Homo sapiens: one gene and its partners. The protein of the gene in region 4 interacts with the protein of the main gene of each other region in a pairwise test. Each region holds a gene or a part of one and is shown on either strand. Other genes may lie near its edges.

Region 1 (3,733 bases), on a different chromosome or scaffold from region 4:
AAACCCCGTCTCTACTAAAAATACAAAAATTAGCCAGGCATGGTGGCAGGCGCCTGTAGTCCCAGCTACTCGGGAGGCTGAGGCACTCTAGCCTGGGCAACAGAGCCGTCTCTTTAAAACAAACAAACAAACAAAAAAAAAACCCTGCAACGGCCCCTGAGTCTGCTGTAAGGACACTCAAATGGCAATTACAGACATTTCTCCAAGAGTTTCAAGGCCTTACCCTCATTCTGACTCTAGGATAATTCTTAGATTGTATCCCACACAACAGTGACTTGTACCTGTGTTCATCTTTATGTATTTACCACCTCATAGTAATTATTTGCATTCATTTTTATCGTACGACACTAAACTATTTGATTCTTCCAGTGGGACATTTAAAGGATGTGAGAAGACCTTGGTCTTCTCAAAAACATCTGTATTTGGTCATGGAATAAATCCAGATGCTACCTAAAGCCAAGCTAGTACCTGAGCTTGTTTCTGAGATCAAAGGGAATTATCAAAATGTGAAACACCTTCTGCCTGACAATTGTTATCTTTTACTTTAATAGGCAATTAATACTTGTCAGCTTGGACATTTTATTTCCAGTATCATGCTAAAAATCTCCTTGTTGTGTGATTCTTTTATTTCTTGACATGCACACATATATGGATCAAAAAGTATGTACAACTAGAAAAACGGACTCCAAGCAAAAATGGAAAACATGTTTCCATGAGCTTAGATTTCCGGGTATATTACTCCTAAACCTAAGGTAGAAGTAATGCATTGTTCACTTACATGTCCACTTTTCTAACCCAAGCTAAGGGCTGGAAAAAGAAAGTCAGAACAGTCCCAAGTAAATATGGGAAACCATAGCAGTGATAAAACCTAAGATTTCTCAGAAATAGTTTTAAGTGGGAAGCCTCTAATCCTACCTGGACAGTGCTTTCCTGTGGGTTTCTCAGCATGAGTCCAAACCTCACAAAGCACCTTCAAAGTCTGGGCTACCCAGTATCACAAGTATAGCAGTAAGTCCAATATCTGGATACAGGGGCCAAGGAAACAATGAAAAAACCAAATCAAGGACCAGATGCTGAGACTCCCCTTGTGTTCCACAGTTGGAAGAATAAGCAGTTGGACCCTAGGTAGTTTTCCGCTTCTTGGCAGATGGCCGCTCAAATACATCTCGTACCCCAGCTGCCTTTTGTTTGAAGAACTTTGTGTTCTGGGCACTCTCTTGGCCCCAAGCTGAGTCAAAGGAGGTGGTATCTTGATCCACAAGGTGAGTGTATTTGGTGCGACCTGAGCGTCCAAAGTTCTTGACCTGAGGGAAGGATGGATGATGAGTTATACCACCAAACAAACCATGCCTCAGCTATCAATACATCACTTTTCTCTGTCATGTTATTAAGGTTCCCCATACCTGCATGACTTTAGGAAGAATGGTTTTATTGAAATGATCCTCCAGGGTAGGAGCGCTGAAATCTCTCTTGTATACTTCTTCATCCTCATCCTGTATAAAAAAAATCTTATCAATCTTGTGGCTTTATTTCCTATATATTCAAACCACAAATTTATTAAACTCTACAATAAGGGATACAGAGAAAGCAGAGGGTATTGAGCCTTTCTTCAAGAGCTTACATCTAGTTGAAGAGATGACATTCTTTTTTTTTTTTCTGAGACGGACTCTCGCTCTGTTGCCCAGGCTGGAGTGCACTGCCGCGATCTTGGCTCACTGCAACCTCCGTCTCCCAGGTTCAAGCAGTTCTCCTGCCTCAGCCTCCCGAGTAGCTGAGGCTACAGGTGCATGCCACCACACTCGGCTAATTTTTTGTATTTTTAATAGAGACGGAGTTTCACCGTGTTAGCCCAGATGGTCTCGATATCCCGACCTTGCGATCTGCCCACCTTGGCCTCCCAAAGTGCTGGGATTACAGGTGTGAACCACTGCGCCCGGCCGAGATGATATTCTTTTTCCTTTGTTGTATTTCTCCTTTTTTTTTTTTTTTTTCCCTGAGACAGCGTCTCATTCTGATGTCCTGATGTCCAGGCTGGAGTGCAGTGGGGTCACTACTGCTCACTGAAGCCTTGACCTCCCAGGATCAAACGATGCTCTCACCTCAGCCTCCTGAGTGGCTGGGACTACAGGTGCATGCAACTATGCCTAATTTTCTCCTTGAGTGTAGACGTGTCTTGAAGGTTGGCTTATTCTCTGCACTCAATGTGTTTGTTTACTCATGTGACTTCAACTCTGCATAGGCCTCTCAAATCTGCAATCCTGGATTTTTTACTGGCTTTCATATATCATAAGTTGGATATTTTATTGGGACTTGAAATGCACGTCTAAAGTGAAAACCATTTATTAATACCTAACCTTTCCATATCAACCTCTTCTCTTTAACTTTTCTGTTAGTAGGACCAGCGTACTCTTCGATTACCTAGATTCAAAACTGAGTAACCTCTGTGTGCATTCAATCAGTTGCCACATCTTACAAACTCTTACCACCTGGGTTATTAGTTTTCCTCTACTATCAGTCTCACATACTGTCATGGCACTGATGTTTCTAGACTGTAACTCATTATAATCTTTGCCTTGCTCAAAAACTTCAATGGTTGTCTATTAAATGAATACAACACCTAGGCTGGGCGCAGTGGCTCACGCCCGTAATCCCAGCACTTTGGGAGGCCAAGGCGGGCGGATCACGAGGTCACGAGTTCAAGACCCACCTGACCAACATGGTGAAACTCTGTCTCTACTAAAAATACAAAAAACACTAGGCCTGGTGGCGCGCACCTGTAATCTCAGCTACACAGGAGGCCAAGGCAGGAGAATCACTTGAACTCAGGAGGTGGAGGTTGCAGTGAGCTGAGATCGCACCACTGCACTCCAGCCTGGGTGACAGAGCGAGATTCCATCTCAAAAATAAATAAATAAATAAATAAATGAATACAACTCCTCTGTGTAGTAATCAAGGCCAAATATTATACAGCCTTAATCCACCTTTTCAGTTCTCTTTGCCGCTTCCCTTCACAGCTGATGCTTTCTGCCTCCACTCCTGCTGGTCTCCACCTGGAATGTCTTCCCAGCACCGAATGTCAAAAAGTCTATACATCTTGGCCGGGCATAGTAGCTCACGCCTGTAATCCCAGCACTTTGGGATACTGAGGTGGGCACATCGCCTAAGGTCAGGAGTTCAAGACCAGCCTGGCCAACATGGAGAAACCCCGTCTCTACTAAAAATACAAAAACTAGTTGGGCGTGGTGGTACACGCCTGTATTCCCAGCTACTTGGGGGACTGGGGCAGGAGAATTGCTTGAACCCGGGAGGCGGAGGTTGCAGTGAGCCAAGATCGCACCACTGCACTCAAGCCTAGGTGACAAAAAAAAAAATTATATATTTAATTTTTTTTTTTTTGATACAGTCTCACTCTGTCGCCCAGGCTAGAGTGCAGTGGCGTGATCTCGGCTCACTGCAAGTTCCGCCTCCCAGGTTCACGCCATTCTCCTGCCTCAGCCTCCCAAGTAGCTGTGACTACAGGCGCCCGCCACCACGCCTAGCTAATTTTTTGTATTTTTAGTAGAGATGGGTTTTCACCATGTTAGCCAGGATGGTCTCAATCTCCTGACCTCATGATCCGCCTGCCTTGGCCTCCCAAAGTGCTGGGATTACAGGCGTGAGCCACCGCGCCCGGCCCAAAATTATACATCTTAAATGCTTAAATGTTACAACCTTTACGTCAACCCTTTCAATC
Region 2 (7,034 bases), on a different chromosome or scaffold from region 4:
CCCTGGCTCAGAACCGAGGCTATATTACAATTACTTGTGTGCATGGCTTTTGTTTCCTCTGCCAGACTAGAGATTTCTGGATGGCAGGGTCTGTATTCTTTGTATTCCCACAGTGCCTTGTAAACAAGTATGTAAGGCTGGGCATGGTGGCTCATGCCTATAATCCCAGCACTTTGGGAGGCCGAGGCAGGTGGATCACTTGAGGTCAGGAGTTCGAGACCAGCCTGGCCAATATGGTGAAACCCCATCTCTACTAAAAATACAAAAATTAGCCAAGTATGGTGGTGTGTGCGCACCTGTAATCCCAACTACTCGGGAGGCTGAGGCAGAAGAATTGCTTGAACCCAGGAAGCGGAGGTTGCAATGAGCCAAGATTATGCCACTGCACTCCAGCCTGGGCAACAGAGCGAGACTCTATCTCAAAAAGAAAAAAAAGGCTGGGCGCGGTGGCTCATGCCTGTAATCCCAGCACTTTGGGAGGCCGAGGCAGATGGATCACGAGGTCAGGAGATTGAGACCATCCTGGCTACCACGGTGAAACTCCATCTCACTAAAAATACAAAAAAATGAGCTGGGCGTGGTGGGCGCCTGTAGTCCCAGCTACTTGGGAGGCTGAGGCAGGAGAATGGCGTGAACCCAGGAGTCAGAGCTTGCAGGGAGCCGAGATCGCGCCACTGCACTCCAGCCTGGGGGACAGAGCGAGACTCCGTCTCCCAAAAAACAAAAAAGTATGTTAATAAAATCTATTGAGTGAACACTTCTGAAAAATTCTATGAGCAAAGGTAAGGTTCCGGAAGAGCAAAAGGCAGACAAAGCAGCATGACTGGAGCAGTAGGAGCAGAGTCTGGGTGGGGCAGTGGCCGACGCCAGGCTAGAAAGGCAGATGGCAACCACGTAGCAGCAGCATTTGTCTCTAGCCTTGCAAAATGTGGAGCTGCTGAAGATCATCAGGCAAGGGGTCTTAGGTAACATGCTCCAGTGAGTGGCATGCAGGATGCAGAAAAATGGAAGAGCGGAAGGAGGCACATCAGTTAAGGGCTCACTGCCGACCTTGATGTGGAAATCCACGGGAAGCGTCCTGGAGCCCACCAGCCGTTTCATGAGGTAGCCCTTCCAGTCGGTGAACTTGGCATGGATGGCTGTGGAGGCACCAGCAGAATCCTGGTTACACAGACTGACAAACCTCCACTGACAGGGGCGCTAGCGCCGACCCAGAGTGGGGACCCCTCAGCAGTGGGGACTGAAAATAGCTGCCTCTTCAGGCCAGCAATGACTTCATCTGAGAACATCAGATTCCACACGTGGATCTGCCCCCAGGCCTCTGGGATGGGGAGGGCAGGAAGCCAGGGGGCAAGTGGATTCTGTTCTAACAAGACAGAGGACTCCCATTCTACCTAACACAAGCAGAGGACTCTCCCTCTACCAGGGGCCCTACGGGAACAAGAGAGGAAATGTTCTCATCAACTCACTCCGTGGGGGCACTAGGATCTTGCTGTTGATGGCACACCAGCCAATGGGGTGGACATCCACTGTTCCCAGGTTGCACCAGAAGTCATGGCTGGCGTCATTTTCAAAGCCTTCATACCGAAGCAGCACCCGATACCCTGAAAGGAAAGGAAAGGGCACCTGTGAGGGAGGGTGAGCTGGGGAAGGTATGTTCTGTTTTTTTTTTTTTTTTCTGAGACGAAGTCTTGCTCTGTCGCCCAGGCTGGAGTGCAGTGGCGCCATCTCAGCTCACTGCAAGCTCCACCTCCAGAGTAGCTGGAACTACAGGCGCCTGCCACCACGCCCGGCTGATTTTTTTTTGTATTTTAAATAGAGACGGGGTTTCACCGTGTTAGCCAGGATGGTCTCGATCTCCCGACCTCGTGATCTGCCCTCCTCGGCCTCCCAAAGTGCTGGGATTACAGGCGTGAGCCACCGGGCCTAGCTTGGGGAAGGTATGTTCTTAAGCCTTCTCTTTTCTCTAGCCTAAGCTGGACTTCTGGCACCTATACTTCCAGGCAAGTGGATTCCTGTTGTCCACAACAGTCCTAGCCAAACAAATTCATGCTCCTAGTTCGGAAAGCATTATGGAATGGTGCTGAGAGTTAATTCTCTATAACCTGATCATCCTTGGAATGAATTTTACTTTTTAAATTTTTTCATTTTTTATAGAGACAGTATCTCACTATATTGCCCCGTCTGGTCTCGAACTCCTGAGCTCAAACAATCCTCCTGCCTCTGCCTCCAAAGTGCTGGGATTAGAGGTGTGAGCCACGAAACCTGGCCCTGGAACAAACTTTAAAAATTGGGGTTTCCAGCCAGGCACGGTGGCTCACGCCTATAATCCCAGCACTTTGGGATGCAGAGGATCACCTGAGGTCAGGAGTTTGAGACCAGCCTGGCCAAGATAGTGAAACCCCGTCTCTACTAAAAATACAAACATTAGCCGTGTGTGGTGGCCAGGTGGCCTGTAGTCCCAGCTATTCGGGAGGCTGAGGCAGGAGAATCGCTTGAACCCAGGAGGTGGAGGTTGCAGTGAGCCGAGATCGTGCCACCGTACTCCAGCCTGGGTGACAGAGCAAGACACCATCTAAAAAAAACAAAATAACAAAAACAAACAAAAAAATTTGGGGTTTCCAAGCCTGCCAAGCTCTGTGTTCCCTTCTCCGGTAAAAGAATCCTTAGAAGTGGGGCAAAAATTCCAGTGGGTGGGATTTTTGTTTTATGAAGCCAACTCCTGCCTACAACACTGTTCACCCATCTAGAGATGTCACTCTGCAGACACATCCCTGGCCCTGCCCTGGCCAAACACTCACCTGCTGTCTGGATGACAGAGGCGATCCAGTACACCCGGCTGGGGAGCACAGCATCACTGTTGAGCACCTCCACCTTCATCCCTTTCATCACATCCTCCCACTGGTCATAGAGTGGGACCTGTGTGGCGATGAGAGTGTACCGAGAGAGTGAGCTAACTGTGCTAGCAGGGGAGACAGACTGCCTCACGGCCTCAGTCAAGTCCTCGTTTGCACCTCAACTTTTCACATCACCCACTGTGTGCAGAACCAGCTACTAGAGATAAAGAGATGAGGTCTCCTGTCCTTGAAGAGCTAAGCCGGGAGTAGAGGTGGAGGTGGTGGGATGCAGGGTGATGGCTAGAGACCCAGAGTCAGACAGAACCGAGTCCTAAAATCTTTATAGGACTGGTTTCTTACTGTATCATTTTGGGCACATGATGCCTTGGTGAGCCTCGATCCCTTCGTCCCTGTGCCAGCCCGAGCAATGGCAGGGCGCTGATATTAGCACAAATATACTTTCCTTCAATCATCATACAAACCTGGGCTGTGGGCATTATGACCCCCTTGTTTACACACAGCCATCCACCTGCAAGTTTACTCTCTACCTCCCCTCCTACTGAAATGCTCCAGGGGGCCAGGCATGGTGGCTCACGCCTGTAATCCCAGCACTTTGGGAGGCCGAGACGGGCGGATCACCTGAGGCTGGGAGTTCGAGACCAGCCTGACCAACATGGAGAATCCATGTCTCTACTAAAAATACAAAATTAGCCGGGCGTGGTGGTGGCACATGCCTGTAATCCCAGCTACTCCGGAGGCTGAGGCAGGAGAATCGCTTGAACCTGGGAGGGGGAGGCTGCTGTGAGCTGAGATAGTGCCATTGCACTCCAGCTCTGGGCAACAAGAGTGAAACTCCCATATCGAAAAAATAAATAAAATAAAATAAAGTGCCCCAGGACAGCACTGGACTGTTTCAGTTGCCTTCCCAGTACCTAATCCTCACTTTCCTGCCAATGGTACTTTTGATTCTCCTTTGGGAGAATCACTTTTTTTAGAGTCTTGCTCCGTCACCCAGGCTGGAGTGCAGTGGCGCAATCTCAGCTCATTACAACCTCCGCCTCTCAGGTTCAAGGGATTCTCCTGTCTCGGCCTCCCAAGTAGCTGGGATTACAGGTGCCTGCCACCACTTCCAGCTAATTTTTGTATTTTTAGTAGAGATGGGGTTTCACCATGTTGGCCAGGCTGGTCTCGAACTCCTCACCTCAGGTGATCCACCCGCCTCGGCCTCCCAAAGTGCTGGGATTATAGGGGTAAGCCACTGCGCCTGGCCAAATTCACCTTTTTTATTCTCAGCCCTGGCTTCAGCCAGTTGAGGTATCCCATTCCATCTCCCTGGTCACTTGAGTTTAGTTCATCACAGAACCCGGACACAGTTGCGCTAGCCCAGGCACGCAGGGGCAGGCTTTTTACAAAGCAAATTGGATTATATGTGTTAGACACAAGGATGATGCAACTCCCTGGAAATGAAAATGCTGAAACTATTAGAGAATTCAGGGCAAAAAAGAGGCTCCCCCTCCAGCAGGAAGGAGGTGCACCTTCATTAGCCATTCAGAGACGAGAGGAGTGAGTTAGCTGAGTCAAGAAGCAGCTGTCATTGTTCAGGGCACTCCCCAGAGTTCAGTGGCAGTTCTGAAAGGAGGAGAGGAAGTGGCTTACTCTGGGTAAAAGACTCCCTACTTCCTCAAGACTAAAGAGGCCTCCTCCTGGATTTCCCGGAGCTTAGGGACGTGGTGTGAAGACAAAACAAGAGTGCTGTTGTGGGCTCTGCTCTCCCGGCCTGCAGGCTCCACACGTCACAGCTGCTGGATATTCGGTTCTTGCGCTCAAGCCCCGCCCCTAAGGGCCTTGCCCTTCGTTCTGGCTTTTACATGATCCGCATCGAGGAGCCTTTTACAGAAGTGGCTCCAGGAGCATCCACATCTGCCTCTCGGGGCCCACGGGGCCCAGGCCAGCTACAGAAGCACCCTGCTTTCCATGGGAAAATGCTGCAAATGGGGGAGAAAGGAGAGAAGGGTTTCAGACTGCAAAGACCCTTCGACATCAGCTAGCACCAAGTTCCATCATGTAAATAAACTGAAGGGCTTCAGACCGGGAGTGAAGCCAAGCAGGTGATAGAAGTGTTTGTAGGAGGATTTTTTTGACATAAACATGAAATGGAGCGAGTGGTAACGCCATCCGTCTCCTGCCCAGACCTCCCCACTGTCACTGTCCAGCCTGAAGCCGCCCTGGTGAAGCAGGTGGAGGAGCAGCTCCAGGCCCGGCTCCCCGGCCTCCCTCCCTCAGCTCCAGGGCACTCACGTGCTTGAAACAGCTGACGGGAGCAGCCTTGTAACTGTGATCCTTCAGGAACTTCCCCCAGTCGAAGCCCAAGACCAGAGCTGCAGAGCAGAGAGGACGAGTCAGACTAGGAGCCTGCGCAGCAGCCACTCCAGGAGCCTGGACCCCAAGGGCCCTGTGGGACCTGCAGAGGTAGGTCCCCCACCCCCAGCAGCCCCTCTCACAGCGCTGCCCACGACACCCTCCTTCACTCCCATACCTGATCCACCAGTGGCCATGAGGGACCACTGTTGAGGACTGAATTGAAAGGTGGCAAGACTCTCAGGAGTAGAGGAACATTCAAAGGGAAATTTCTCGCCCTTCTTCCCCCAAAGGGGAAAACTGAAATATCCCTGGGCTTAAATTCCTCCCTCCGCCCTGAACCTGATTGGCCACACCCAATCTAAATGTGGGGGAGGGGGTGCGCACACACCAGGGCCCCTCCAACTGAGCTCCGGCCTGCTGAGCTCAATTTCAGTTAGAAACTCAGAACAATGATAGCAGAGTTGCTTTATGCATACATTTAACTTGCTTAGCAATTGCTACACACTCAGAGAGAGGCTCCTTTCCTTATCCCACCACCCCTCTCCAAACCTGCCTTCAAACCATATCTGGGCCTTCGTTGCCCCAGGGAAACAGAAACCAAAAGGATAAAAGCAAAGAGAAACAAAAACAGCCAATTCTTGGCTTTTGAATTATCATGGGTAGGAGTCCTGATAATTTAAGGGTGTTTGAAGGCATTTTTCTGGGTAATTTCCACAATACCCAACAGGTGAGGAAGATGCAATCCGCAGTGACCCTGACTTAGGGCACTTTCTACCTGGCCGGTTTGCCCAGTCTTCATTCCTAGGAAAGGCCACCCCAAACCCAGTCTCCTCCCCAGCCACGGCAGCTTCCTAAGCAGGGCCCTCTGCTATCTTACCGTCTTGTCCTGTTGGTGTCCCATCTGCCAGCTGTCCTGTCCCTTGAGAGTGGAGGAAGGCTCCAATTTTGGCAGACCAGGCAGCCTTGTGCAGGACTTTGGCTTTTTTGGTCGGTGGTTTTCCCTGGAGAGGAGGACAGAGGCTATGTGTAGCCTGGCGGCTGGGATCATGAGTCTGGATTTGGGCCGCCAAGTTGAAGTCCTGGGCTTGGGCCAGTGACTTAACCTCTTTTGGGCTTCAGTTTCTTCATGTGTGAAACAGTGATGACAATAACAATCCTGAGCTCAGGGGGTGGTTGTGGGGAAGCGTCGGGGGTGCTAGGGGGTGCTAGGCAGTGCTGCAGAGCAGGGAGAGACCCATGTTCTATCTTTTAAGCCTTTCTGTCCTCCCAGATTCAAGTCTCAGTCATCTCCTTCCTCCAGTGTCGCTACTGATAGATCCAAAGCAAAGAATGGGCCTCACAGGGGCCCAGAAACGCTCATGAACTGGGAGGCAACCTTCTGTACATACGCGAATGTTTGGGAGAGGGTCCACATAGGCGAATGTTCGGGAGAGGGTCCACATAGGCGAATGTTCGGGAGAGGGTCCACATAGGCGAATGTTCGGGAGAGGGTCCACATAGGCGAATGTTTGGGAGAGGACCCACAGCTTTCATTAGGTACTCAAAGGGGGTCCTCCCTTTCCAAAGGGAATGGCCACTGATCTGGTCTGTATTTTGTAACTTAAGTACTGAACAGGAAGGCCAGGAATTTACTAAAGAGATCAGTGAAGCAGAAATCTGGGTTTAAGTCCCAAACAAACCTACAGGGCAAATCCCAGTTCTACAGTTTTTAGTTGTATACCTTTAAGTAAGTTACTAAAATTTCTGAGCCTTTATAAAAAGGAATTTTTTTAAAAATCAAATTTTTTAAGATCGTTAATTGGACTGAGAATGTCAAGCCCTTAGCAAGTACTCCCA
Region 3 (7,481 bases), on a different chromosome or scaffold from region 4:
GGAGTCCATGAAATACATAAAGGCTTAGAACAGTAGGTGGCACATACTAAATGCTAAGAAAGTGCTTGCTATTACCTTCAGTTGATTTAGTCTCTCCCAGAGCTTCCATTGCCATTTTTAGGTAAATAGTACCCAAATGCAATGTCATCATGAAGACCTCCCTTCTGAGTTCCAGACAGATATACCCAACTGCTGATTCATCATCTTTACTTGGATGTCTTGCAACACCTCAGACACAGTGTGTTGAAAATGAAATGTCTCATATCTTGCCCAAACTTGGTTTGGAATAGATCACCAGCTACTTTGAGAATCTGATAAAAAAAAAAAGTTCTCTTCTCATACAAATTCACAAAGCACATCATTTTGCATACAACTTGAAGGAATTCATGGACCCCAAATTAAGGATCACTGCCTTAGCAGATGTGTCACTTGAGCTGAGTCCTGAAAGAAGAGTAGAGTTTCACCTGGCAGACAGGCAAGTCAGGTGGGAAGGGCAGAGCTGGCAAAGAGGGCAGCTTGACAAAGGCGAGGAAACAGAAAAATACAAGGCGCAAAGAAGGACCTGCTGAGAAACAAGGCCAGGGAGGGAAGAAGGGACTCCATAACAGGAGTCAGGGCATATAGGCCACGTTAAATTCCTTGCATTTGTAGATAACAGAGCCATAAAAGTTTGAAAGGGAGAGACATGATCAGATTTGCATTTTAAAAATACTAACGATAGCAAACACTTGTTGTCTTCTATGTGCTTTCTACATAATCTCTGTGAAAGCTGGATAGGGTAAGGGGTGGGGGCAAGCTCTGGAAAAGCAGGGAAACGATGAACAGCTTTTTGATAACTGAAATTCAAGGGCTCTGTGAATATATGGCAAACACAAAACTAATTAGCATACATTGAAATGCATGCTATTTTACCTTTAGCTTAAGGATACTAGTGATACAGTAAGAATTCCTTTTTTTTTGGAGATGGAGTTTTGCTCTTGTTGCCCATGCTGGAGTGCAATGGCGTGATCTCAGCTCATGGCAACCTCCGCCTCCCGGGTTCAAGCGATTCTCCTGCCTCAGCCTCCCGAGTAGCTGGGATTACAGGCATGCGCCACCACACCTGGCTAATTCTGTATATTTTTTAGTAGGGATGAGGTTTCTCCATGTTGGCCAGGCTGGTCTCAAACTCCCGACCTCAGGTGATCCGCCCACCTCGGCCACCCAAAGTGCTGGGATTATAGGCGCGAGCTACCGCACCTGGCCAAGAATTCTTTAAACAATTCTGTCCTGTTACAACTACACATTTTAGTGACAGAGGCTGAGAACAGAAGCTCTGGTGTCAGCAGGAGTGGGGAGCCCCTCCCAGGAGGCCTGGCCGCTGTCATGCTGATGTCCAGATCCTGGGGCGATGTCACCCCCTGGGTCCAGGACTTCCTCTCCCTTCTCTAAGACAGAGCCCTTGAAAAAAATATCAGTTTTAGGTGAGTTCTGCAAATTGAAAATGAATAGACTAGTGAATGCTTTATTTAACGCAGTTACAAATAAGCTGGTTAATTTTGCTTTGTTTCTTCTATTCATGGTCCAGCTAACTAATGGCAGAAAAAAAAAGCCAATAATCTTGTTAAAGTTGATAAATGCCACTTACACAAAGAGTGGGAAGAAGAAAGGAAGTTTGGCATTTAGCATCAGGTTACTCCACCAGATTATAATTGGGTGCTGTAGAGAGCTATGAATAAGTTTGGATAACAGAGAAAGCCCATTGCTGGGTGAATGCCCTAGGGAGTAAAGTCCCGCATTTGGGCTAGGAGTGGTGGGGCAGGAGGGGCCCTGTGGGGAGCTTTGCCGGGGTTGGGTTAGAACTCTGGGTCGATCGTGGGCCTGGATTCTCTACCTGCCCTCACAGGGTTGCCAAATCCTGAGATTAGTCTAAAACCTCTCCGACCTTCCAGGAATGAGGCTTTCTGTAGTCTAGGCAGCTCCCGCCCTCCCCCAGGATTACTCCAGATAGGAAAAAACACCCTTTCCTCCTGGGTCAGTACCCGCGGCCTGGATGTGGTGCTGACTCTGCACAGGAAAGTCCTTTAGAGACAGAGGCTGCCTGGAAGCCTTTATAACGACATTCATCTCCTAAAAGGCATTTTGTCTTTTCTTCCGCTCAGGAAAACAGTGTTTGGAGACTAACTAATTAGTCTCCAAAGGTTTGAGCCCATTGTTTGAGTCCGCTGAAGCGAAGAGAATATTAAAAAAAAAAAAAGGCAGGGCTAGATCCTAATCCCAACACCATCTCCATCCCGCCGGTACAACAGGCCAAAGGGTCCAGCTGGGACAGGTGCACTTAGAGGTGAGGAAGTTCGGCGGGACTGGAGGAGTCGGGGAGGGGGACTCGGCAGCACAGATTAAAGTCCCACGATGAAGCCATATAACGAGAAATGCCATCCTCCTAGCCGACTTCGGAAAGACTTTTAGGTGCGGGTGTCCCACCCTGCTTTTCTTCCTCTCCCGATCTCCAGGGCCGGACTCCAGGGGGCTCCGGAGCTACAGGAGGAAAGTCCCCGAGGAAGGAGGAAACAAGTGCAAGAGCATCTCCTGTCTCTAGCGATGCAGACAAGGGGTCTTTGCATCCGCCTGGCGCTCTGCATCGCCTCACAGGATGGGTGGGCTTGCACTGAACCTTGAGTCCTTCCACTTTCCTCCCCCCGGGTGGTGCCCGCCCTGCCCAGGGCAGCGCGGCCCGCCCAGGAGAGAGCGGGGGATCCGGCAGGAGGAGAAGCCCCGCGCCCCGGTCCCGTCGCACGGATCAGGAGGGTCCCCGTCCGGGGAGGAGCCGCCGCGCAACTCGGAGAGCGCCCCCCGCCCGCGGCCCGGCCCGGCGCGGCTCACCCTCCGGTCTCGGCGCCCGAGTCCACGCAGTCGTCCTCCTCGCCGCCGCCGCCCGCCTTTGGGTCCATGGTGCACGTCCCGGCCGCGCTCGGCTTGCGGGCGCCGTCGTGACCCGGGGCGCCCTCCCTCCCGGCCGCCCAGTCCGAGCCGGCCGGGCTCCCTCCGAGCGTCTGGCGGCCCGGGAGCCGGCAAACAACTCAAGCGCCAGCCGCGAACCCCGCGCCGCGCCCTCTCCCGACCGCGCCCGGCTGGGCACCCGCGCCTGCGCCCGCGCCCGCCCCGCCCCTCGCCGTCCGGCGGGACCCGCGTGTGCGCGCGGCGGTGCGCGGGGAGTGCGCGTGCGAGCGCGTGTGCGAGCGCGTGGGGGGCGTGTGAGCGTGAGTGGCCGAGGTGTGTGGTCTCACACCCGTGCGTCTGTGCATGCGGTGTGATGTGGGTGCGGTGTGCACTCCTGGTTGCACGCGACTGTGGCTGTGCTGAGCGCGTGTGCCCGTCTGTGGTGCGTGACCGCGTGTGTGTTGTGGGGGCGGGGTAAGTGTGCACACGAGAGCCGCCTCTCTCCCCCAGGCCCACAGTCCGGGAATCCCGAGCCCCAGGGCTTGCCACGAGGTTCCCCACCTCCTGATCTGGGAGGAGCACTGAGAAAACCAACCTCAGCGCATCGTGAAAGCTGGGAAGGATTTGTTTCCCTTTTGGGACCAATTCGAACACCTGGGTGTTTTCTTATAGTTTCTGAAGAATTGCTGACGCCAAATTCATTATCACCTTTCTCAGTACACGTCTGAGCGGCATCCCACCCCCTCAACTTGCCAGTTTACAATAGGTGTCATGCATTCTTTTGCTACTTAAAAAAAAAAAAGCCTTTAAAAATAATTTAAAGAGCATTGAATGAACCTGCAATTCACGGGTTGTTGCAGCAAGGGGATAACCTTAGGGTGAGTTAATGATCGCTATTGGAGGGGCTCACCTCCTATTAGGAGGGTGAAGAGGGAGGCAAGTTGGCAGGGCGGGCGGAAGGAGACTTCGAACAACTTGAATTTAGTTCTGACAGCCCTATCCAAACCATTGGGAGGAATTGTCCTTACTGAGCCTAAAATTTCTTGCACCCCAAACAGCAATGGACATATTGGTGGGCATTAGCTGAAAGAAAGGAGCGTGCCAGTTCTTCAAGGGAGATTCCCCTGCCCATTTTTTATCTTGCAGCCAGGAGGGAACCTGCCTTTATTTACTCTGTGTGGGAACAATTCAAACTGTGCCTCATTTGATCCTCAGGGAAGTGCTGTGAAACAGGCTTACTTTTCTATTTTACCGTCAAGGAAACTAAACCCTACCGAGTTCGAGTGCCTGGTCCCAGGACACCCTATCAGTGAGCAGGGAAGCCAGGTAGTCCACTTAAGGTAGCTGGAGCCTGTGCCACTTACCTAGAAGGCTGATGAGTGGGCCAGTTGTATCCTCAGGAAGATGGTACTAAGGAAAAGGCCAGGGAAGAAAGGGTGAAATCAGCATGACTTTTAGAAGATGGGCTTTGGAAAATGAGATGCTATTTAAATGATTTCTGCCTTTCTCAAATATCCAGAGAAAGGGCATGCCAGACCAAAACCTCAAGCCACATCTCAAAATGATGCATGGATTCAGGTTCCCCTCGCCCACAGGGGACACAGTGTTATCATTCATCATTGGCATAGCAGTCTAATGGCAACTCAGTGATGCATTTATTATATGGAAGAGAAGCTTGAACGGTATCACTGTATTCTAGTGATGCATGGCTTTCTGCTTCAGTTCCCAGGTTTTAAAAGCCTCACTTCATTTTTTGCTTGTTTGTTTGAGACAGGGTCTTACTCTGTTGCCCAGGCTAGAGTACAGTGGCACAATCACAGCTCACTACAGCCTCCACCTCCCTGATTCAAGTGATCCTCCCAGCCTCCTGAGTAGCTGGGACTACAGGCGTGCCACCATGCCCAGCTGAGTTTTAATTTTTTTGTAGAGAAAAATATGTTGCCTAGGCTGGTCTCGAACTCCTGGCCTCAAGTGATCCTCCTGCCTCGGCCTCTCAAAGTGCTGGGACTATAGGCATGAGGCATTGCACCTGGCCCATTTTTTGGGAGGGCGGGGTATAAGAGTTGCTGGCAGGTAACCAGCACAAGAACCTTCAAGTGATCACTGCAGGGTATCTAGCCCCTAAACTTACATGGTTCCCACACTCCATAGTCCAGCTGTTTAATGTCAGTCTCTTTAATCATGGGGGTACGATGCTCTCCTCCACCCCTTTAAGATGGGGACAGAAAAGTGTCACTGGTCTGCTTAGGGTGTCTTGACTGCTGCCCTAAAGATATTCCTATCAGAGCCTGAGAACAGTGTTGGGGGAATACTGAGGTATGGCAGGAAGTGTAACAGGCTAGGAAACATGAAACCTGACTTCTGGATCGGAATCCATCATGTACTAGTTCTTTAAACTCTCGATAGAGAAAAAGGATAGACCATCAACTGTTTCCAAAGTTCTTACTACATGTCAGTCTTTGTGGTAAGGATTTTACATACATGATTTATTTAAATCTCACAAAATTCTTGTGAGGCTTCCTTTGTCCTTAAAATGGGGTTGTTGATATAAATCTCACAGGAGATTCAAAGCCCCTTAGAAACTACGAAGCATATGAATAAAAGATATTGCTGATTTTTTAATCACTTTTTCTCAGAAAGGTCTGAACATCAATCTTTTGTTGTATTTCACCTATAAAGCATGTTTCAGTCTCTGTTTATATTATTGCATGTGTTGGTGTGTTAGAAAACAAGGCAGTTCATTCATTTATTTATTGAACACTCAGTGTGTACTAGGCAGGGGCTGGTGCTGGGGATATGTTGAGGAATAGGCCAGAGCTATTTTCTGGCCTAATGGAGCTTTTTGGGTCAAGAGAAGGCAAGGCCAATGGGCATGGCTGGCCTTCCCACCAGGCACCTGAGAGGTATGTAGTGCCATCAGCCATTAGAATAGGACTGGAATGCCAAAGCCCTGTCTTGGAGGAAAAAACTTAAGATAATCGGATGGTAAATAGAGTCCATCAACTTTGCTGATGAAAGAGATGGATTAGTAATTAAGAAGGCCAAGAGTAATTGGGAGGGGGCCAAAAAAAGAGGAGCTAAGTAGCTTTAAGATAAGAACTTTACAGCAAGAGACTGAAAACAGATAAAAATAAATATCTCCAGAACATAGAATTTGCCCAGATTTGGATTTCAGTTTAGAGGGAAGCTAGGCCACTTTCATTGCATCTGTACCATTTGCTATTAGGCGAGCTTGATTTAGTCCCTTAAGTAAAATATTTGTTAGGGTTATCCAGTAGCAAATAGAACCAGAAAATATATTGGTCTGGAAACTTTTGCTCATTCATTTTAATTAATTAATTACTTTTTGAAAACACATTTCCCAGAAACAAAAATTACAGGTTAAAGAATGACATTAAAATTAAAAAAAAAGAAATCTCTTTCTTCCAAGACTCCAGAAGAGTCTGTCTAATGTGAAAAATAAATATTATGATCATGAGAAGAAAATTTATAAACTATTGACAAATCTACTTAGACAAAGAAAGCCACTAGCCCTACATGCAAACATAAGGGGACCAGATGGCAAAGGGATAAATGAAATGAAAGATAAACTGTTGTGTTGGGAAATAATCTCATTAAAATATAAATGACTCCACTTTGATAAGGAAGAGCACAGATAGTGGTCCTGCCTTGGAGGCTTCCCAAGAATTCTCAGCCTGCAGTTTATACCCGGACGAGATCTGGAGTCCAAGTCAGACATCAGACCACCCACCCACTGTGACCCCCAACAACTGGTGGGTGGGTGGGCGTAAAATGAGATGGGAATGTGAAAGGCTGGCTTCCGGAAATGTGCTGTGGAAATTTAAGAATCAAAGGGAACCTTAGACTCAGGGCACTGCCCTCCAGTCCCCCGTGAATAGACACGCCTCCTGGGAACTGTGGCTAAGTCACCCATTTATGGTTCTACGAATAACCTAGGCTTGGAAAGCTTTGGCCTTCCGTCCACTTTCATCCTGACACTTTCCTTCAGGCACCTGGTCCTCCCCAGCTCCAACGGCCTGATAGTCAGCTTGGCCTGCCATTACAAAGTACCACAGACAGCATGGCTTCAACAATAGAAGTTGATTTCGTCACAGTTCTGGAGGCTGGAGGTAGAAGATCATGGTGTCAGCAGGATAGGTTTCTTTGGAGGCCTCTCCTTGGCTTGCAGACGGCTGCCTTCTTGCTGTATCTTTCTTCTATCTGTGTGCATCCTTGGGTCTCTTTGTGTGTCCATATTTCCTTTTCTTGTAAATTAAACAGTCAGATTAGATGAAGACCAACTCTAATGGCCTCTTTGTAACTGAATCACTTTCTTTCTTTCTTTCTTTCTTTCTTTCTTTCTTTCTTTCTTTCTTTCTTTCTTTCTTTCTTCTGTCTCTCTCTCTCTCTCTCTTTCTTTCTTTTTTTTTTTGAGATGGAGTCTCGCTCTGTCGCCAGGCTGGAGTGCAGTGGCACAATCTTGGCTCACTGCAACCTCCACCTTCCGGGTTCAAGCGATTCTTCTGCCTCAGGCTCCCGAGTAGCCGGGACTACAGGTGTGC
Region 4 (7,175 bases):
ATCCTGGCTAACATGGTGAAACCCCATCTCTACTAAAAATAAACAAAAAAAATTAGCCCGGCGTGGTGGCACACACCTGTAATCCCAGCTACTAGAGAGGCTGAGGCAAGAGAATTGCTTGAACCCGGAAGGCGCAGGTTGCAGTGAGCTGAGATTGTGCCACTGCACTCCAGCCTGGGCGACAGAGCGAGACTCCGTCTCACATAAAAAAAAAAAGATAACTCGTGTTTATAAGAAAATTTAGAAGAAACTTATAAAGAAGGGGAAAATCACTCAATATTTCCATCTCTGCCTACCATGAATATTATAAAATATTTTTTTCCATTCATTTTCTTTACACTTAAAAGTTGCGTAAGATGGCTCACGCCTGTAACCCAGCACTTTGGGAAGCCGAGATGGGTGGATCACAACAAGAGATCAAGACTATCCTGGCGAACATGGTGAAACCCCGTCTCTACTAAAAATACAAAAATTAGCTGGGTGTGGTGGCACGTGCCAGTAATCCCAGCTACTCAGAAGGCTGAGGCAGGAGAATTGCTTGAACCTGGGACGTGGAGGTTGCAGTGAGCCAAGATCATGCCACTGAACTTCCAGCCTGGTGACAGCGAGACTTCATCTCAAAAAAAAAAAAAATTGCATAAGATCATAATATTGTAAATATTCAGATCATAGTATTGTAAAACTAATCCTTTTCCTAATTTTTTTCCTTTTTTTTTTTGAGATGGAGTTTTGCTCTTGTTGCCCAGGCTGGAGTGCAAGGGCACGATCTCAGCTCACTGCAACCTCCGCCTCCTAGGTTCAAGCGATTCTCCTGCCTCAGCCTCCGGAGTATCTGGGATTACAAGCGCCACCACCACGCCAGGCTAATTTTGAATTTTTAGTAGAAATGGGGTTTCTTCATGTTGGTCAGGCTGGTCTTGAACTCCCGACCTCATGTGATCCGCCCGCCTCAGCCTCCCAAAGTGCTAGGATTACAGGCGTGAGCCACCGTGCCTGGCCCTTTTTCCTAAACATTGCATAAACATTGTGCTATATCATTAAAATCTCTTCATATATATATGATTATTTAATGGCAATACATTATTCCATGGTGTCCATGCGTCATAATCTTCTCAGCAACAATAAGGTATTTACATAATTTCCAATTTTTCCCAAGTTAAATGATACAAGACTACCTTTGTGCATATATGGTTAGATAAAATTATGCCTCATAATTTTCTGAAAATTTGTAAGATATTTACATTATGTCCAATTTTCCCCAGGTCTAGCTAAGACAAGAAATCTCTGTTCAGAAATACAGTTTGGTTGACTTGCTAAGGAGACTGGGCTGAGCACTGTGATAAGCCATCTTGCAGGGATACACTTAAGCACTTTGCAATCAATGGATGGAAGGAAGGAAACCTTTTCTTCTCTGGCAGATACTGAGATACCCATGGAACTAACAAGGAAACAAGGAAGTGAGACATGAAGTAGCTTGCATTGCTGACGATTCCTTAATGATGGAATAGGACTGACACCCAGAATGAAAGGATTTTCATAACAGATAATGTCACTGGTATGTGGAAAGTGCAAAAGTAACGACATAGACCTTCGTTAGAATCTTGACACTGTCGCTTAACAACAGTGACTTTAAGCGTGGGTTTTCTCATCTGAAAAATGGGAGGAGAGGTTTCTAATCCATGGTTTTTGTTTGTTTTTAATTTCTCCAAGAAAAAACACGGGCTTGTTATGAGAATTAAATGGGATGGTGCTCGTACCAGCACAGTCCCCCCTCCCCGCCAGTCCCCCAGCATGTTACCTGCTGGGTTCTTACTGAGGTACACTATTTAAACATGGACATATCTGAGCCCCACCTAGGAGATACTGAGTCATAACAGGGTGGGGTGGGGAGGATGGTGTTTAGGAAAATCTGTGCTTTTCACAGTAATGCAAGGAATACACCGCCAAGTTTGGGACCCAGTGTCTCCCAAACTGTTAACAGTAGCAGCTAACAAGCTGGGAGCTTACTATGTGCCAGATTTTCTGCAAACCCCTGGTAGATGGGTTCTCAAACTTCATGTGCTTCAGAGTTGCCCAGGCAGCTACGAAGGACAGCGGATCCCCAGCCCCACCCCCGAGATTGAATGGGTGGGGCCCAGAAAGCTGTTTTAAAATACACGCTCTCGCTCCCAGGTGGCTGGTTGCACTCAGTCTCTGGACCACACTTTGGGAAACAATGCACCGGGAGAAACCAGGGACTTGAAAAACGCTGATGTCCTCCTCGGTTAAATAAAAACTGAACCCCAAACCCAAATAAAGCGACCACGGCCCCGTTTTCCATTCAGATCTCCACCCTTAATGAGGAAAAGGCTTTGCAATGAGCCGGCAGGACCTCGTGAGACCTGGTGATTCCCCCAATCTCCAGGCTCTAATTTTGAGCCACTGAGGCAGAAGTTTTCCCATCAGTGTTGCCCCGTTTACCCTAGATTCCTCCCTTTCTCCTGCCCGCCCCAAACTCCGCCTGATGGGGCGGGAATGCCCTTAGGGGGTGGCGATTGTCTGAACGGCGTGCCCTCCCCCACTGTTCCCTTCCAAGGGGTCTCGCAAGGCTGGAGAGCGCCCCCGGTCTTGCGCCAGGTCGGGTGCGCCCCCACCCCAAGCCCACTCCGGCGCCCCCTGCACAGCGCGCCCGCCGCGGTCCCCGAGACGCGGCTCCGAGCCGTCACCCCGATTTCGGGGCCCCGGGCCTGCTGGCTGCGTCGCAGACGTGCTTGGGCCCGGGCCCCGGAGCGCGCACTGGGCCCCGGAGCGCGCACTGCTCCCGGAAAAGCACTTACTTTGCACCGAGCCCGCGAAGCTCTCGCCCTCGCTGCTCGCGTTCATGGCCGCAGACTGGGAGGTCCCCGGCCGGCCGGGATGCCAAAGTGGGGGACGCTGATCTACATGGTGCAAGGACTTTTCCTTTTATTTTTCCACACCCCCCACCCTGCCTTCTCCCAACTCTGCGAGGCGGGGAGGACGGATGTAAAGCAAGCTGCACTTCCGCTGCCTAGAGGGCGCTGGCCGGGCCCGGCGCCCCAACCTGGCTTTGCAGCAGCGGCTCCCCGGGGAAGCGGCGGGCGAATCCCGAGGCCCAGGCCCGCGGAGCCCCCCAACGCCCCCGGGGAGCTGGATGGCCACGCGCGTCCCGGCGTGCTGGGCGACCGCGGGTGGCGAGGGATGCGCCCCTGCCCGCACTCTGCGTTCTCCGCGGACGCGATTGGCCTCCCCGGCTCGGGGCGCCTTTTGCACCTGCAACCCCAGGCGTTGGGCCCCCAGCGCGGCCGTGCAGCAGCGCTGCTCCCGGGACGCCTGGGTGGTTTGCGGGGAGACCCACGTGCGGCTGCCGTTGCGGGGTGGGTGCGCGGGGCGCGGCGAGCTCCGGAGAAACCCAGGTTGGGCGTGAGCGCTGGGCAAATCAGCAAAGCGCTGGGCGGGTCCCTTGCCCCGCTAGGGAGACTGAGAGGACCGCGAAGAGGTGGGGTCGTAGCGCGGAGGGACCCCTGCTCCAGGAGCTGCCAACTTTATCGTGCATCGCAGTCGCCTGAAAGGCTTGTTAGAACACACGCTGTTGGGCCCACCCTAGCGTTTCTGCTTCAGTAGGTCTGGGGCGAGGCGTGAGAACGAGCATTTCTAAGTTCCCAGGTGATGCCCCTAGTGTTGGTCGGCGTCCACACTCTGAGGACAGTGACCTCTCTGCTCTGTCCCTCATGTCTTACTACTACTGTCTCCCCCGGGCTCCTGCGTCAGCCCTATTGTCTCTCTGCCGACCCTCCCAAGCCTCAGACCTCTCCCAGCCTCGAGGGATTTGCCCATAGAGTCTGTCCTGCTTCTGAAGGTCAGCATTCAAATTCACACTCAGGGAGGCCATGCTTGGCCTAATCTAATCATTCTAATATTGCAGCCCCCTCCTCCTCCCCCAACCACTCCCTGTCTCCTTCCTGTTTTTTTCTTTTTCTTTTTCTTTTCTTTTCTTTTCTTTTCTTTTCTTTTCTTTTCTTTTCTTTTCTTTTCTTTTCTTTTCTTTCTTTCTCTCTCTCTGCCTCTCTCTCTTTCTCCCTTTCTTTTTTTAGAGAGGGGGTCTTTCTCTGTCTCTCAGGCTGGAAGAGTGGTCGGATCCTAGCTCATTGCAGCCTCCAACTCCTGGGCTCAAGCAATCCCCCCTACAGGCGTGGGCCACCACCCTGGCTCACTTTTTAATTTTTATTTTTGTAGAGATGTTGCCCAGGCTGGTCTCGAATTCCTGGCCTCAAGCGATCCTCCATCAGCCTCCCAAAGTGCTGGGGTTACAGGTGTAAGCCACCATGCCTGGCCTGCTTTGTCCTTAAAAGGTGTTAGATGGAACATATTATGTATCTCGAGTATATCTGCTTAGATATAATTTAGTTGTATATTATCTGTGTTCTCCTCCCCCTTATTTTCAGTAAGTCCCTGTAAAAATGGGGATTAAAAAAATCTCTTTGCTTCACTGATGTAGTCCAGTGACTTGGCTGGTGCCTGACACATAGTAGGCTTAGTAAATATGGCTTGTATAATGAATGGGATTTTCCCTGCTGCTGCCTCTAAGGCTTGGTTTCTGCCTGCAGCAGCTGTTTATTCTCAAGTGTTTGTGAAGTGCCAGGCACTGGGCTAGCTGCTGGAGGTAGACCAGGGAGGCAGTCAACATGAAATAATCAAATCAGTACTGTAAATATATATATATTTAATATATAATATTTAATATATTTAATATATATTTATATTTATGTATATATATATTATATATAAATATATACAATATATATTATATATAAAATATTATATATTATATATTATATATTTATATATATAAAAAATATATATAAAACTTCCTTTTTTTTTTTTAACCTTAAGTTCTGGGATACATGTGCAGAACGTGCAGGTTTGTTACATAAGTATACATGTGCCATGGTGGTTTGCTGCACCTATCAACCCATCACCTAGGTTTTAAGCCCCACATGCATTAGGCATTTGTCCTAATGCTCTCCCTCCCGTTGCCCCCCACCCCCTGACAGGCCCTGGTGTGTGATGTTCCCCTCCTGTGTCCATGTGTTCTCAACATTTTGCTAGTGATAAGGGCTCCAAAGACCATAAAATGGGGCTGTAATAGTGGCTGTAGAACTGGTCATAGCAGGCCTTTCCGAGCAGGTAATATCTGAACAAGGAGCCGGGGAGGATGCAGCCATGTGAGGATGAGGGGGGAGCAATTCCAGCCTGAGGAACTGGTGGGAGCAAAAACCCTGGGGCAGGAATGAGCTAGATGTAACTGGCTGTGGCCTGCCAGTCCCACTGCAGATCACACCACTCTCACCCTGCATTGCCCAGGCAGCTCCACCAGGCTCCTTGCTGTTGTTGCTCCTCCCTCTGCCTGGATTGCTTTCCTGGTCTTTGCAGGACTGGCTATTTTAGGTCATCCAGCATCAAATGAAATGTCGCCTTCCCAGAGAGACCTTTCCTATGTCTTACCTAAAGTATTCACTCTCCCTGCGACTCTGCGACATCACCTTCATGATACCTGTCTAGCTAACATGACCCAGCAGAGCACCGCAGCTTACGGCAATATTTATTTTTTATTGCTTGATGAATGTTTACATATGTGCACACCTGGGAAGTCCCCTTCCAAGACACACATTTCCAGCCCTGGTCGGCTCCCTCATGCACCTTCCCAGCCAATAATACTATTCTGGCCAGGCAAGGTGGTTCATGTCTGTAATCCCAGCACTTTGGGAGGCCGAGGTGGGCGGATCACCTGAGGTCAGGAGTTCTAGACCAGCCTGGCCAATATAGTGAAACCCCATTTTCTTCAGTACAAAAATTAGCCAGGCTTGGTGGCGCACACCTGTAATCCCAGATACTCCAGAGGCTGAAGCAGGAAAATTGTTTGAACCCAGGAGGCGGAGGTTGCAATGAGCTGAGATGGAGCCACTGCACTCCAGCCTGGGTGATGGAGCGAGACTGTCTCAAAAAACTATAAATAAATAAAATAATACTATTCCTACTATCCAATCTTGCAGAGGTCACCATTCTAACTTTTATTGTCACGATTCCTTTTGTTGAGAGCAATATATCTCACATTTGCCTGAAGAGAAGCATCATCTGGAAGGCTCACTAAAGAATGAGTTCTTGGGTTCCAAGCTATGCTTACTGCATCAGAATTTTCTGGGGTAAGACTTGGTAATCTGCAAATATCTCAAAAGTGCCCCAGGTAATTCTTATCATGATGTAAGTCTGGGCCTTACTGGTTTGGTGGTTAAGTGTGTAGGCCCTGGAGTTAGGCTATGCCACTGCCATGCAAATCCTGGAGTTGCTGAACTAGGATTAGTTGCTTAACCTTGAATAGGAAATTCAACTGCTCTGTGTCCCGGTTTTCTGTAGCTTGGAGATAATAGTAGCACCTAGTTCATTAAGCTGTTTTGTAGGAGGAACCAATCAATATCTGTAAAGTGCTTAGAATAGTGCCTGACTCATATAACTCGGCATAAATCCTAGCTATTATTATCTTTTAATTATTTTTGGTTATTATCTGTCTCCCTACCATGTAAGCTCCAGGAGGGCATAGACCTGGCCTATTTTATTTACCTGTATCCTCTGGGGCCTAGAACAGAGCCTGGCACACAGGCATCCTCAGTTCATTTTTTATTGTGAAATGATTTCATGCATGTTTCCATGAGCTCCATTTTAACCTTTTGCTACTATGTCCAGCCAACCTTCTCTATTACACATCTTGACCACTGCAACAGTCTTTTTCTGGTCTGAAAATGTCCTATTTTCATTTCTTATTTTTCTTTCTATACTTTTAAAAAATGTTATTTTTCAACATAAGCTCCATCAAGATCAACACACTCTTATTTATTTATTTAGAGACAGAGTCTCGCTCTGTCACCCAGGCTGGAGTGCAGTGGTGCGATCTTGGCTCACTGCAACCTCCACTTCCCAGGTTCAAGCGATCCTCCCACCTCAGCCTCCTGAGTAGCTGGGATTACCGGTGTGTGCCACCACGCCCAGCTAATTTCTTTGTATTTTTGGTAGAGACGGGGTTTCATCATGTTGGCCAGGCTGGTCTCAAACTCCTGGCCTCAAGGGATCTGCCTACCTTGGCCTCCCAAAGTGCTGGAATTACAGGTGTGAACCACTGCACT

What was found.
Region 1: the proteins of ZFP64 (region 4) and MFAP1 interact in binary tests that used the Homo sapiens proteins (3 or more experiments, as listed by UniProt).
Region 2: the proteins of ZFP64 (region 4) and L3MBTL2 interact in binary tests that used the Homo sapiens proteins (3 or more experiments, as listed by UniProt).
Region 3: the proteins of ZFP64 (region 4) and FAM124A interact in binary tests that used the Homo sapiens proteins (3 or more experiments, as listed by UniProt).

Annotation. Positions count from the first base shown.
Region 1 is NC_000015.10:43,803,973-43,807,705, forward strand, and holds the end of MFAP1 (microfibrillar-associated protein 1), read right to left. Parts: intron 1,494-3,733; coding exon 1,404-1,493; intron 1,305-1,403; coding exon 1,122-1,304; 3' UTR 520-1,121; downstream 1-519. UniProt on the Homo sapiens protein: Involved in pre-mRNA splicing as a component of the spliceosome.
Region 2 is NC_000022.11:41,215,304-41,222,337, reverse strand, and holds part of L3MBTL2 (lethal(3)malignant brain tumor-like protein 2), read right to left. Parts: intron 6,200-7,034; coding exon 6,076-6,199; intron 5,307-6,075; exon of another isoform or gene 5,216-5,306; coding exon 5,136-5,215; exon of another isoform or gene 4,494-5,135; intron 4,480-4,493; exon of another isoform or gene 4,386-4,479; coding exon of another isoform or gene 4,116-4,385; intron 2,920-4,115; coding exon 2,802-2,919; intron 1,605-2,801; coding exon 1,470-1,604; intron 1,140-1,469; coding exon 1,051-1,139; intron 1-1,050. UniProt on the Homo sapiens protein: Putative Polycomb group (PcG) protein. PcG proteins maintain the transcriptionally repressive state of genes, probably via a modification of chromatin, rendering it heritably changed in its expressibility.
Region 3 is NC_000013.11:51,217,951-51,225,431, reverse strand, and holds the start of FAM124A (protein FAM124A), read right to left. Parts: upstream 3,035-7,481; 5' UTR 2,931-3,034; coding exon 2,863-2,930; intron 1-2,862.
Region 4 is NC_000020.11:52,188,775-52,195,949, forward strand, and holds the start of ZFP64 (zinc finger protein 64), read right to left. Parts: upstream 3,006-7,175; 5' UTR 2,863-3,005; coding exon 2,817-2,862; intron 1-2,816. UniProt on the Homo sapiens protein: May be involved in the regulation of mesenchymal cell differentiation through transactivation of NOTCH1 target genes.